Regions from separate parts of the Homo sapiens genome. Here all the other regions are linked to region 2. The links come from fine-mapping of genetic effects on gene expression. A gene starts in region 2. Each other region holds a variant in brackets. All regions are shown on one strand. Distances are between the middles of the regions.

Region 1 (4,224 bases), 170 kb after region 2:
ATTTCTAATAAAGGGGTTATTGTCTAGTAATTTGAACTAGAGGACTAAAAATTTGGGAATTTCACTTATGTTTTTTTGTCCCCTACTGCCTTTATTCTGCCATTGACCTCTTATGTGACCTTTGAATGATTTAATTTTTCTGAAGGGAGGGATGACAGTGATGAACCATGTAGCAAGGTGACCCCATGGTAATTCCTCATCAGCAAGGGAATCCAGCAGCCCTTCTCGGGAGAATATGGGATGTTGCAATATTCCACTCTGAGACTTCTTTTTCCCTTCTGCTGGAACACAAGTCTCCTGACTCCCAGTCTAATGTTATTTCCATTACACCATCCAAGTGTGATGCAAGATATGGCAGAGAGATGTCCCACGGTGCATCTAAGTGGGAAGAAAAAATTTCTAGCTTATGGGTATATAAACAATGCAAGAAATGGATCAAATGCAATCAAATGCAATCAAATGGATCTGCCAAATGCATAGGTCTTCCCATTAAGTAAATTGGGCATGGAAGCATGGACAAATATGGTTCTTCTATGAAAAGTTCTTAGAACCTGCAAAAGGCTTTAACACAGAGAGGACCTTTAAATAGTGAGCTTATTTAAAAAGACTAGACTTCTAAGCAGTGTTTTCGGGAGAGCACTACTGTAGAATTCTAAGGTTGTTCCCTTTACTCTGGAGCTCAGAAGCTCCATTTGTTGAGGATGGTAAATGTCAGAGAAGATTCACACCAAAGGTACTATCTGGTGCTCTGTGGACATGTGGCTGGGCTCTAAAGCCTGTGGACACCCCTAGAGGCTGGAGATTGTACTGATCTTGGTATGAAGATCAAACTAGTTACTAGCTTATGGGACCCAGTGTGACTTGGGTGACTTTAGGTAACACTTCTCTTCCTTCAGAGCCTTAGATCTCAAAGACATAAGATAGGAAGAACAGTACCATTGTCTCAAGACCTTTTCGAGGATGATCCAATACAGTGCTGTTCAAAATGCGGTCCCTGGACCAGCAGCATCAGCATCACCTGGGAACTTGTTAGAAACGCAAAGTTGGATGGTTCCCCAGACCTACTGAGTCAGCAGCTGTGGCAGGGAGTAGGGGTTGGGGGGATTCTAGCAATCTGTGTTTTCACAAGCCCTCCAAGGCTTTCTAATGCATGCTCAAGTTTGAGGACTCTTAGAGTAGGAGAGGGTGTTTCAACCTTGGCACTACTGATATTCGGGGGTGAATACCTCCCTGTTGTGGGATCTGTCCTGTGTATTGAAAGATGTTGAAGAGCAATTCTGGTCTCTACCCACTAGATTTTAGTAACAGCTCCCCATCTTCCAAGTTGTGACAACCAAAATATTTATAGACATTGCCAAAGTCCCCTGGAGGACAAAATCACTTACAGTTGAGAACTCCTGGTCCAGGATAAAGCAAGTTCCTGACATTTGGCAAGCTCTGAATGAAGTGTTAACTTCCCTTGTTTTCTTCTGCAGTCTATCCATCTGAATTGAAGGGGAGGGTGGAAGAAAGCAAGATACAAATGTTTTTTACCTTTTTGACTGTGCTGACACTATGGCCCCACGTCTCGTTATTTAAAAATAGTCACACTCTTTCAACTTTCTAACAAAATTTTCCTTTGGGTTGAAACTAAACATGGAAAATCTCAGCCCTGGGACCTGTGTTAATTT[T/C]CCCCCAAGAGCTAAGAGGCTGCGAGTGAGGATTGTTGATGGAAAGTTTGAGGTCTCTGTAACTGCAGAGCTTGCTGCTGTGATGTGGGGGCACGAGTTCCCTCCACTTCACCTTGGCTTCCCCTCCCATGAGAGTTTCACAGCTGGTCCCCTCCACACCCGGCTGCTCGCCCTGCTAATAATAACCACAAGAGATCTGATTTCCGTTGCTGGTGAACTGCCTCTCATGCTTGGATTTTCCTTCTACATGTGGCCTGAGTTGGGAGAGGCATCTGAGCTGCGGAAGGGGCACACCGTCCTTGGAGTTAGGTGACCTGGGTTCCAATTCTACCTCCACCCATAACTTGCATGGAAGATGCTGGGTGCATCATTCAAGTGCCTGATTGCACTTTGGTTTCCATACCTGTAAGACAGACACTATAAGACCTGTGGGAGCATTCATTTTTAAATATTGTGGTAAATTATACGTAACATAATGTTTACCATTTTAATCATTTTTGAGTTTACAGTTCAGTGGCATTAAGTGCATTCATATTGTTGTGTAACCATCACCACTATCCATCTCAAACTTTTTCATCACCCCAAAATGAAATTCACTAACTCCCTGACTTAGTCAACTTGGGCTGCCGTAACAAAATACCATAGACTGGATGGCTTAAGCAATAGAAATAAAATCTAAATTTATTTTCCCATATATAGAAAAAAATGGAAATTTACTTCTTACCGTTCTGGAGGCTGGGAAGTTCAAGACCAGGTTGTCAGCATGGTCAGGTTCCAGGTTCTGGTGAGGGCTCTATTCTTGGCTTGCAGACGGCCACCTTCTTTCTGTGTCCTCACATGGTGGAGAGAAAGTTCTGGTTTCTTCCTGTTCCTAGAAGGACACTGATCCCATCATGGAGGCTTCACCCTCAGGTCTTCATCTAAAGCTAATCACTCCCTAGGCCCCCATCTCCAAATACCATCAAACTGGGAGTTAGGGATTCAATATATGGCTTTTGGGGACACACATTCAGAACACTCCCCATCACTCCCACTCCTAATCTCTTGTGTACTTTCTGTTGTGAATTTGGCAATTCTGGGCACCTCATGTAGGTGGAGTCATAGAGTATTTGTCCTTTTGGAGAGCATACTTTTGATATATGGTGGAACATTTATTTGTATATTTGAATACAAATATACAAATTTGTGTTTGTGTCTTTGAATATTCCCAGAAGCATTGTCCAGGGTTGAATCTGGCCTCCAAGAGAATGGTTGAAAGTGCCCTACGTAAAAACTGAAGATCAAATATCTAAATGAAAACTGAAGAATGCTGGTAGTTTGATGGTTATTCTCAAAAGGGTTTTGGGGCTGGAGAAAAGGCTACACTTGGAAATATTGTTACGAAGCATTAAGCCCTTCTTCAGGTAGGCACTGGGTGTGGAAGACACTCTGTTTGCCTATCCAAAGTCATCCTTGCTTCCTGAATCCAGTTTTGTTCTTGCTCATCTGAGCAGCCTGCTCTTGAGACAATGTCGCTCATGACTGGTCTAGGCCAGTGACGTTCCCTTTGCAATCACTGGTTGATCATAGCCATGTGGCTGCCCACTCCTGGCCAGTGGGATATGAGGGGTGGCCAGTGGAGGAGAGTTTTTTAAAATTTTTTTTTATTTTTATTTTTTAATGCATGAAAGGAAACATTGGTGAGAATGGTCATTCTTCTGCTGATGCCCACATGGAAATGCCACAGCCATCTCAACCCTACCAGGGCCCTTGATACTGCTGATGAGCCACTGAGTGAAGCAACCCTGGCAGCCACCATGCTGCTGGATTATTGCTGTGTAACTAAACAATTCCTTTGTTGAAGCCACTTTGGGGAGGGTTTTTAGTTCCCTAACACAGAACCTCCTGTTGAAACACTGGATTCTCAGGACTGGTCAAGGGCCTGTTCTGCTCCACGTGGTTCCACCAGGCCTGGGTATGCTGGATTTGACCTAGTTGGGTTTGCATGTAAACTTCACCTGAACCTCTCCCTCCTGGCCTGATTCTTAGTCTCTTGATGGAAAGGAAGTCAAGGGGCCAGGTGCCGTCACTCGTGCCTGTAATCCCAGCACTTGGGAGGCCAAGGCAGGAGGGTTGCTTGAGCCCAGGAGTTTAAGACCAGCCTGGGCAACATAGCAAGACCTTGTCTCTACAAAACAAAATGAAACAAAACAAAACAAAAACCGAAAAAGAAGAAAAGAAAAAAAAATCCGGCTGGGCATGATGACTCAGGCCTGTAATCTCAGTACTTTGGGAGGCTGAAGTAGAAGGATCACTTGAGCCCAGGAGTTCGAGACCAGCCTAGGCAACAGAGCAAGACTCCATCTCTACTAAAAATAAAAAATTTAGCCCGGTGTGGCAATGAGCGCCCGTAGTCCCAACTACTGGGGAGGCTGAAGTGGGAGAATCACTTGAGCCCAGGAGGTCGAGGCTGCAGCGAGCCATAATCACACCACTGCATTCCAGCCTTGGTGATAGAGTAAGACTCTGTCTCAAAAAAATATAACAATGAAAAAAGAAGAAAAGGTATTCTCTG
Region 2 (4,224 bases):
AATATTCTTCTCACCTCAGCCCCGCCTTTTTTGTTTTTTTTTTTTTTTTTTCCTCCAGACGGAGCCTCCATCACCCAGGCTGGTGTGCAATGGCAAGATCTCAGCTCACTGCAACCTCCACCTCCTGGGTTCAAGTGATTCTCCTGCCTCAGTCTCCCGAGTAGCCGGGTTTACAGGTGCCCGCCACCACACCCAGCTAATTTTTGTATTTTTAGTAGAGATTGGGTTTGGCCATATCGGCCAGGCTGGTCTCGAACTCCTGACCTCAGGTGATCTGCCCGCCTTGGCCTCCCAAAGTGCTGGGATTACAGGCATGAGCCATCGCGCCCCGCGACCTTACCCTTTTATTCTTTTCCATGACGTGTACATAAAAACGAGGCCTGTAAGACTCCAGGAATCGAAGGAATTTGGGAGACAAAAAATGGAGACTCAGAAAATTAGAGAAGAGAAAAATGGGAGGGGGGAGCCTGGACAATAAAACGGGGGTCCTCAGGAGGCAGGAAATTAGCGATTAAATGGGAGCAGAGGTGGAGGAGGCCGACACTGGTGCCAGAGATAAAAGTGGAGTCCCAAAAAAAGGGGTGCGCTGGGCCGTTTTTAAAATTGGGAAACATAAAAAATACCCAGTGGAAAATGAAGAGAGAGAACGGGGCATGCTAAAGTTAACATGGGCGGCGAGAAAGGGACAGGTAGCCAGCGGAAAAGGGGGAGACTGAGAAACCGGCAGGTTCAAAGAAAAGAAAAAAAAAAACCGGCCAAGCGGGGTGAACAGGAGTGTAACCCAGGAGGCCAAACGGGACACAGGAAGGACGTACCCAGGGCTCATAAAACAGGGGCCTGGGTAAAAAAACCCGAAACATTAAAACGGAGAGACCATGGTGAAAAAGAACACGGGAACCTCAGTTACCGTAGAAAACATAGGTTGCGTTAGGAAGCAAAGAAATTTAAAATGGAACCACTGCGATCCGGAGCTCTGGGACCAGTGACCGGCAAATGGAGAGGGCACTTGGAGGGAAGCGAAGAAAGGCGGGGAGAAAGGAATGAGAGGCGGGAGAGTGACTTGAATGAAGCTGACACCAAGAACCGCGGGAAGAGCTTGGGCCCAAAGCAGGAAAGGGAAGCGCTCGAGTTGGGGGTAAGGGGAGGCATTTTGGGGACAATGAGCTGAGCTCAGTAAGAAATCCCCAAGCCACTGATACTACTGGGGACCGGACAACTAAGAAATGGGGTCTTTCAGGCATGAAAAGCCTCCATGATGACTCCTGCCCTGGCCCTGGAATGTTAAAAAGGGGGCGTCTGACCCAAGCGAGCCATTTCTTGAGGCTATGCGGGTAGACAGGGAGAGCAGGTTTCTCAGGGGGACGGGGACAGGCGAGGCTGTCGCCGTAGGTAGGTAAGGGGACAGTCTTCTTCCGAATCGCTCCTGCCCCGTTTTTTATCTCGTTCCCACCCCCACTCCGGTTTTCACCCTGCCCTCCTCTCCCCACCGCCCCGTGTTCTCCTCACTTCCCTCTCCCATTACCGGAGCCATTGAGTAGCCCCCCTTGTTTTACCCTAGCCTTGACCCTCGCCGCACCCCCCAATTCTTACGTCCTCCCCAGCACCCGGTTATTACACCTTCCTTCCACCCCCTCCCCATTTTCCCCTAAGCCCAGCTCTCCCCAGGTTTCTTCTCGGCCAGTATTCCCTCCAACCTATTTCTCCCGCCCCCATTTTTACCCGTTTCCCCCCTCATCGGCCTTCGCATGGCTCCATTTTCACCTGCCCCTCCCCTCGATTTCGCTTCAGCCCCTTTGGTTCCCCTTACCCCCACAGCCCTCGGTCTCCCTCTCTCCGTTCTCCCCGGATCGCCGCTTCCCCTGCTTGGTTTTTCTCTCAGCCCGGCTCTACCACTCTCCAACACCCCCTTTTCCCCTGAGCCCGGCTTCCCCTACTCCGGTTTCTATCGCTCCCCTTTTCCCGGTTTCCCTCAGCTCTGTTCACCTCCCTCCCTTCCCCGTTTTTATCCGGCGCTGGTTCCCCTCAGGACCCCGCACAACCCCTGGGTTTTATCCCGTTCGCGCCCCACCCCGTTTCCGCTCAGCTCCCCCCACCCCTGCCCCATTTTTATCTGGTTCGCGCGTCTTCCCCGCCCCCGTTTCCCCTGAGCAACCCCTCAGCTTTTATCCCGTCAGCGTACCGCCTCCCCGATTTTCCATCTTTTCCCTCAGCTGCCCCCCACCGTTTTTATCCCGTCCGCACCCCCCCTCCGTTTCCCCTGCGCCCCGCCCCCGCGCGTCTCCGCCCGCGCCCACCGCCATGTGACGGGAAGCAGCTGATGGCCTCTCCGGGCGGCGGCGGCGGCCTGGCCGGGGCGGGCGGCGCGGGGGCGGCATGAGGGCCCGCGGCCCGGGGGGCTGAGGCGCCCGCCGCCTGCCGCGGGGGCCGCTCGCGTCCTCCATGGAGGCCGGAGGTGAGTGGGGCCGGGCGCGCCCGTTCCCGCCCGGCGGGGCCCTGGCCCGTTCTCCCCGGGGAGGGGGGAGGCGACCCCGGGGCGGGCTGGGCGGGGTGGGGCGGGGGCTGGACGCGGCGGGGGCGTCCGGCCTGGGAGGTCCGCGCGGGGCCGGCGGGGGTGCGCGCCCGGCGACCAGCTTTGTTTCACTTTCGTTGTCAGTGGCCGCCACCCTGACTCCCGCCGGCGACAGGATCGGGAAGATCGGGCTTCTGCGGGAGGAGATCCCCCGACCGGGACAGAGGGGGCTCCCGGGTGGGACTCGGGGCGGGGGGCACCAAGCCCTAAAACGGAGATCCCCAAGGGGGTGGGTGCCCCTGGGTACCCAGGTGCCAGGGGACGCACTTGCATGTCTGGATGGGAGTCACCTCTGTCCCTCACAAGCTGTGTGATCGTGACAGTGGACAAGCCACTGAACCACCGCCACCCACGTCTCAGTTTTGATCTGCAAAATGGGATAATCCTAGTACCTTCCTCGGAGGGTGGCTGGGACCCGGTAAAAATGGGGTCTGGGGTCTGGGTTCCCTATTGAAACAATCTATTCCCAGCCTCTCCCACTGGAGATTAAGTCAGTGGAGGTGGGGCGGGACTGGAGACGCTGATCCCTGGTGACATGTATGATCAGGCAAATTTAGGATACACTGATGGGTGGGGACCTTGCCTCTATTCTTGTTAACTGCCATCCCCATCAGAAGACAGCGTGGAAGTCAGAGGATATTGGATATACCTCAAGCCAGCCCAGATGAACATAAAATCTCAGTGGGAAAGGTGTGTCTCTTATGCAAGGGGAAAAAAACCCCAAGACGCATGCACGCCTTGGCCCTCTCCCCTCCAACGACCTTCCCTCGGAACCCCACTTGGGATAGATTTAGAATTGATTCCGGGAGTCCCAGGTCTTGAAGGACCCGAGTTTAAATGTAATTTCCTTAGGAGAAATTTTCAGAGCAGGTTCAAGGCCTAGGGCTCAGAATTTGTTCCAGAACTTCATGGTAATCTTGCAGCCAAGTTCAAGCTTCATCCTGGTCTGGAGGGTTCTGATTGCTGATGGCTTGTTACTGTGGGTGGGAAGGTTGAAATCTGGGTATTCCCTGGGGTGGTGTTACTTTTTAATTTAGGAAATGACATTTCTTTGTTTGCTGAAGTCAGGCATTGAGTTAAAGGCAGCTCTCTCTCCTTCCCATCTAGATAAGGGCTTTCTTTTCAGTGAGTGTTACCCGTAGAATTCTTTTTAAAAGGGCCCCTACTGTTTGTGTAGATCCTATGTGAATCTTTTTATAGCTTCCGTTTGATTTCCATTGCCTCCTTACAGTTCAATCTGAAAGCAATCTGTAGCTAGCCTGCCTTTTTAACAGAAATCTGTTTCCAGTTCTGGGGTTTTCCTAAAGATTGACAACTTCGTTTTGAGGGTGTGGGCAGGGTTGTTGAGAGCTGCCAAGTTACTGTACAAAAAAGGCCAGAGTTTTAACTTATTTTCAAATGGAATAAAGCCCATTGTAAAGGAAATACAATGGGCAACAGTTGAAATCTTCAGAGCAATGGTTAGACTTCACTTATTCATTCAGCAAATATTTGTTGAACGTCTACTATGTGCCAGGCACCCTCTAGGCCAGCCCCGACCAACAGAAGTCTAATGTGAGCCACGTATGTAATTTAAAATGTTCAAGTAGCCACATTAAAAAAAAGAAAAAAGAACTAGGTGACAATTTAAAAACTCTTTCAATACAACATGTCTA
Region 3 (4,224 bases), 33 kb after region 2:
CAGTGAGCCGAGACTGCATCACTGCACTCCAGCCTGGGCGACAGAGTGGGACTCTGTCTCAAAAAAAGAAATAAATTATTAGGTGTCAACAGCGGTGTTCTGAACTTAACTTTGTCCTAACTATACAGATATACAAAATTTATGTAATGAAGGATTATTTCGTCGGCAAAATACGTTAAGAGGGAAACAAAACAGAGATTTCCTTCCTCTTAAGCCATTTCATCGGGAAGTTTGGCTGATACATTGGTGGGTCTGTGGTCTAGTCAGTAAAGCAGGACACTGGAGTTCATCTCGCCACCTTTTAAATGCCCAGCCACTGATAGCAAAATCATCATATTCACAATGCAATGAGGAGAGGTGACCTAATTTGTGCCTGTGAAAGCCAATGCCACAAATTAGAGTTGGCCTATGCTGACGTCTATGTTGAACCCAATGCTCTGTCTACTTAAATGATAGCTGCCAGCTTCACTGGGGGCTAATAACAGTGTTTACGGAACCAGGCAAAGCAGAAAATTGAGTTTGTGTTTACTTTTCCCCCCAATATGCTTTAGTATGCCAAAATGCCTTAATAACAGCTGGGTGGTTGAAGCAAAGCAGGCCTCCCAAATAACAAGGGCATTTTCAGAATCAATGTGGGCCGAGCCTGTGAGGTCCAAGGAGAGGCCTTCATCTCAGATATGTAACTGATCTGTACTTGACCTGTGAATTTATCCCCATGTTCTTTAAGCAGCTCACACCCTTCCCCACATTCCATTCAATATCACCAGACTAGATTGTACCGTATGTGAACGATTTAGGAAAAAAACCTGAAACCAAGAAAGTTGAAACAAATAACTCACAACAGGGGAAAAAAGGAAGAAAAGAATTAAAACTGGGGCAAGAAGTACTCACTCAATGTCTGCCATTTTGGTCAATAAATGTATTCGAACTGAAGATGGAAAGTCAACTGAGGGAAAAACAAAATCAAATGAGTTAGGTCACTCTCTACTGTCAAAAAACCCACAGAGGACAAATGAGTTTCAACATGAAATCCTTAACACTGAACTAGTCCTGAGGCCTCAGCCTGCTCACTAGATACCAGACCTCTAAGAAAGTAGAAACAGTGCTGGTTTCATACTTTTTACCCACTCGATTTTGTGCTTTATAGGGTAGACAAAAAGGAAAATGAGCAGATACCAAAGTGATCCTAAGAGCACCAAAGATCACACTGCTCTTAGCAGCTGGGTAGCTCTACAAGTTAACTTGAATGCTGAGTTCCCACTTGCTGTTTTTATTTTATATTTTACTTTATTTTGAGACGGGGTCTCACTGTCTTGCCCAGGCTGGAGTGCCATGGCATGGCGTGATCATGACTCACTGCAGCCTTGACCTCTTGGGCTTGAGGGATCTTCCACCTCAAGACCCTTGAGTAACTGGGGCTACAGGTGTGCGCCACCTTGCCTGGCTGTTTTGTACTTTTTGTAGAGATGCGGTTTCACCGTGTTGCCCAGGCTGGTCTCAAACTCCTGGGCTCAAGTGATCCACCCATTTTGACTTCCCAAAGTGTTGGGATTACAGGCGTCAGCCACTATACCGATCCTGTCCCCATTTAAAAACCAAGCACAAACAACTGATTTTTTAAAGTTGGTTTATGCTCAGCTTCCACAATCAAGGTGCAGAGCTGGGCCTGAGCCAACCATACCTTGGGCAGAAGGCATGGCATGGGCCAGCCAGGAAGAGGCCTGTGAAGGCCTGGGCAGAACCAACATTCATTGACCCGGTTAAGTCTCCATCTTGCAGTTGGCCACTGTGGAAGGAAGAGCTTCTCCGAAAGCCTACACAAGTCACCTGGGGAGCTTAGAGAATACGGATGCCTGGTTGTCCTCCGAGAAGCTGACTTAATTTGTCTGGAGTGCCCCTATCTGCTGCCAAGGTTGAGAACCAATTCTCTGTGTAGAAGGTACAGGCAAGTGTGGAACTTAAGATGTTTTCCTTAAGCCTGCTTTGGTTTACATGGTTTACATATCTTCTCTTTCTTTTCTGGGAATATATATCTAGATAGA[C/T]AGATAGATAGACAGACTTTTTTTTTTTTTTTAGAAATGTGAATTAATATATACTACTTACTGCTATAAAATATAAACCCCTAGAGGAAATAAAGTTAGCCTCCAGGAGTTTTCACTTTCCCCAGCAGTTCTAGATATTAAAAGAGGGTTTATGGAACACGTTTTTTGTGTTTTGTTTTGTTTTTTTTTTTGAGACAAACTCTAGCTCTGTCGCCCAGGCTGGAGTGCAGTGGCAAATCTTGGCTCACTGCAACCTCCACCTCCCAGGTTCAAATGATTCTCCCACCTCAGCCTCCCACGTAGCTGGGATTACAGGCGTGCGCCACCATGCCAGGCTAATTTTTTGTATTTTTAGTAGAGACGGGGTTTCACCATGTTGCCCAGGCTGGTCTTCAACTCCTGACCTCAGGTGATCTGCCTGCTTTGGCCTCCCAAAGTGCTAGGATTACAGGCTTGAGCCACCGTACCCAGCTCTGGAACAAAATTTTAAACAGTGGCAAGACAGAACTGCTAACAAGAAGGGTCTGATTTACAATTCATTAGTTTCTTTGCTTCAAGAATGAAGCCTCCTGTCCTAACCATCCTTAACCCCAAAGCAGGCTACCTTCTCCACAGCTTCTCAGCTGGGGGATAATGTAAGTTACCTCTATGCACAAACAAGTGTATCTCTGTCAGGATATCATGCAGTGCCAACCCCTTCAGAGTTTTCAACTCTGTAATATCTAGAGGAGCAGTTAAGGCAAAGGGAACAAGTTCCAGAACAAACATACTGCAGAGAATTTTGAATCCAAACCCGGGCAAGAGACTTTTTAAAGTAAGGCTTTTAATCCCAACACAACTGTTTCTCTTTCAACTTGAAGCTGCACGTGTTGGACTCCAATTCTTTATTTTTCTTTGTTTCATCTTCAGTAAGGGCTTTCTGAAAGATAGAGTTGTAACTCCTTCTAGTAGAGAATAAAGCCAACTGCGTTTTCTTTTTCTTTCTTTCTTTTTTTTTTTTTTTAAGATGGAATCTCCCTCTGTCACCCAGGCTAGAGTACAGTGGCATGACCTCGGCTCACTGCAACCTCTGCCTCCCGGGTTCAAGCAATTCTCATGCCTCAGCCTCCCGAGTAGCTGGAACTACAGGCACCCACCACCACGCCCGGCTAATTTTTGTATTTTTAGTAGAGACGGGGTTTCGCCATGTTGGCCAGGCTGGTCTTGAACTCCTGACCTCAAGTGATCTACCGCCTCAGCCTCCAAAAGTGCTGGGATTATAGGCATGAGCCACCACACCCAGCCCCAAATGCATTTCCAAAAAGGCTTTGTGTCACCATTCCTAGCCTTTCATTTCACAGCACAAGAGCTATCACTATCATGACCACTTGAAAATTCCTGCATCTTCAATGCCAAGGCCTAAGCTTTTCTCCCATCTGTGAGTGAAGCTGCTTCAAGCCTTACCCTGACTTGAAGGTCAGAGCCCTCCAAGAAGAACTCTGGAGTGCTAAAGACAAGTACCCACTCCACCTACAGACATCTCACTCCCACAACAAGCTGACCAGAGTCGCCTGCAGCCAGTCATCCTTTGCCAGCAAGGTGTGGGTGCTGGCTGCAACCTGAACTCCTGGGGCCACCTTCAGGTCTCGGTGGCCAGGAGGTCATGAGAAAGGATACTTCTGTAGGCTGTGGTGAAATCTTGATTCAACATCCAGTCCAGGATGTTGGCAATGTCTGACTTGAGCGGGTGCCCGGTGCAGGTGTAGACAGTCTCCTCTGTCACCTTCCCAAAGGCCATATTGGTGCTCTGTGTAGACAGAGGGGGAAAGGGGAGATCACAGTGGCTGTCACAGCTGCCACCAAGCTGCAGGGAGCCAAGAAGAAATTGCCAAGGCAGCAATGCAGGTGAGCAGCAAAGTTCTATGGGCACAAGGCAGTGGGAACCCACATATTCAATACCGGAAGAGTCACCTCATCAGAGGATGCCACAGCCTGTTGGCTATTCCAGTGCCAAATCCTTCCCTCCCTTTGCCTTCTTTGCAACAAATGATTCCTTTTGTTTTTAAAACATTTTCTTTTGCTCTCTCTTTGTTTTTTGAGACAGGGTCTTGCTCTGTTGCTCAGGCTGAAGTGCAGTGGCATGATCATGGCTCACTGTAGCCTCGACCTCCTAGGCTCAAGTCACCCTCCTGCCTCAGCCTCC

Evidence for each region. PIP is the estimated chance that this variant, and not a neighbour inherited with it, causes the effect. A credible set is the group of variants that fine-mapping cannot tell apart.
Region 1: its variant is the best candidate, but not a certain one, in a credible set for the expression of WSB2 in tibial artery (GTEx, PIP 0.50).
Region 3: its variant is the best candidate, but not a certain one, in a credible set for the expression of WSB2 in whole blood (INTERVAL, PIP 0.81).

The regions. Positions count from the first base shown.
Region 1 is chr12:117,886,900-117,891,123 of GRCh38, reverse strand. The region is part of intron 1 of KSR2 (kinase suppressor of ras 2); the gene reads left to right. Among named protein-coding and RNA genes, the nearest start is that of KSR2, 80 kb to the left of the region's middle. The variant T/C (reference allele first, on the strand shown) is at 1,671.
Region 2 is chr12:118,059,264-118,063,487 of GRCh38, reverse strand. WSB2 (WD repeat and SOCS box containing 2) reads left to right here and starts at 2,309. Exons shown (of 9, transcript NM_018639.5): 1 at 2,309-2,452. The coding sequence starts at 2,440. LOC124903030 (a long non-coding RNA gene) reads right to left here and starts at 2,028. Exons shown (of 2, transcript XR_007063479.1): 1 at 1,808-2,028. RefSeq lists a silencer at 2,850-2,899.
Region 3 is chr12:118,026,493-118,030,716 of GRCh38, reverse strand. RFC5 (replication factor C subunit 5) reads right to left here. Exons shown (of 11, transcript NM_007370.7): 8 at 3,699-3,828; 9 at 2,687-2,764; 10 at 892-946. Among named protein-coding and RNA genes, the nearest start is that of RFC5, 12 kb to the right of the region's middle. The variant C/T (reference allele first, on the strand shown) is at 2,043.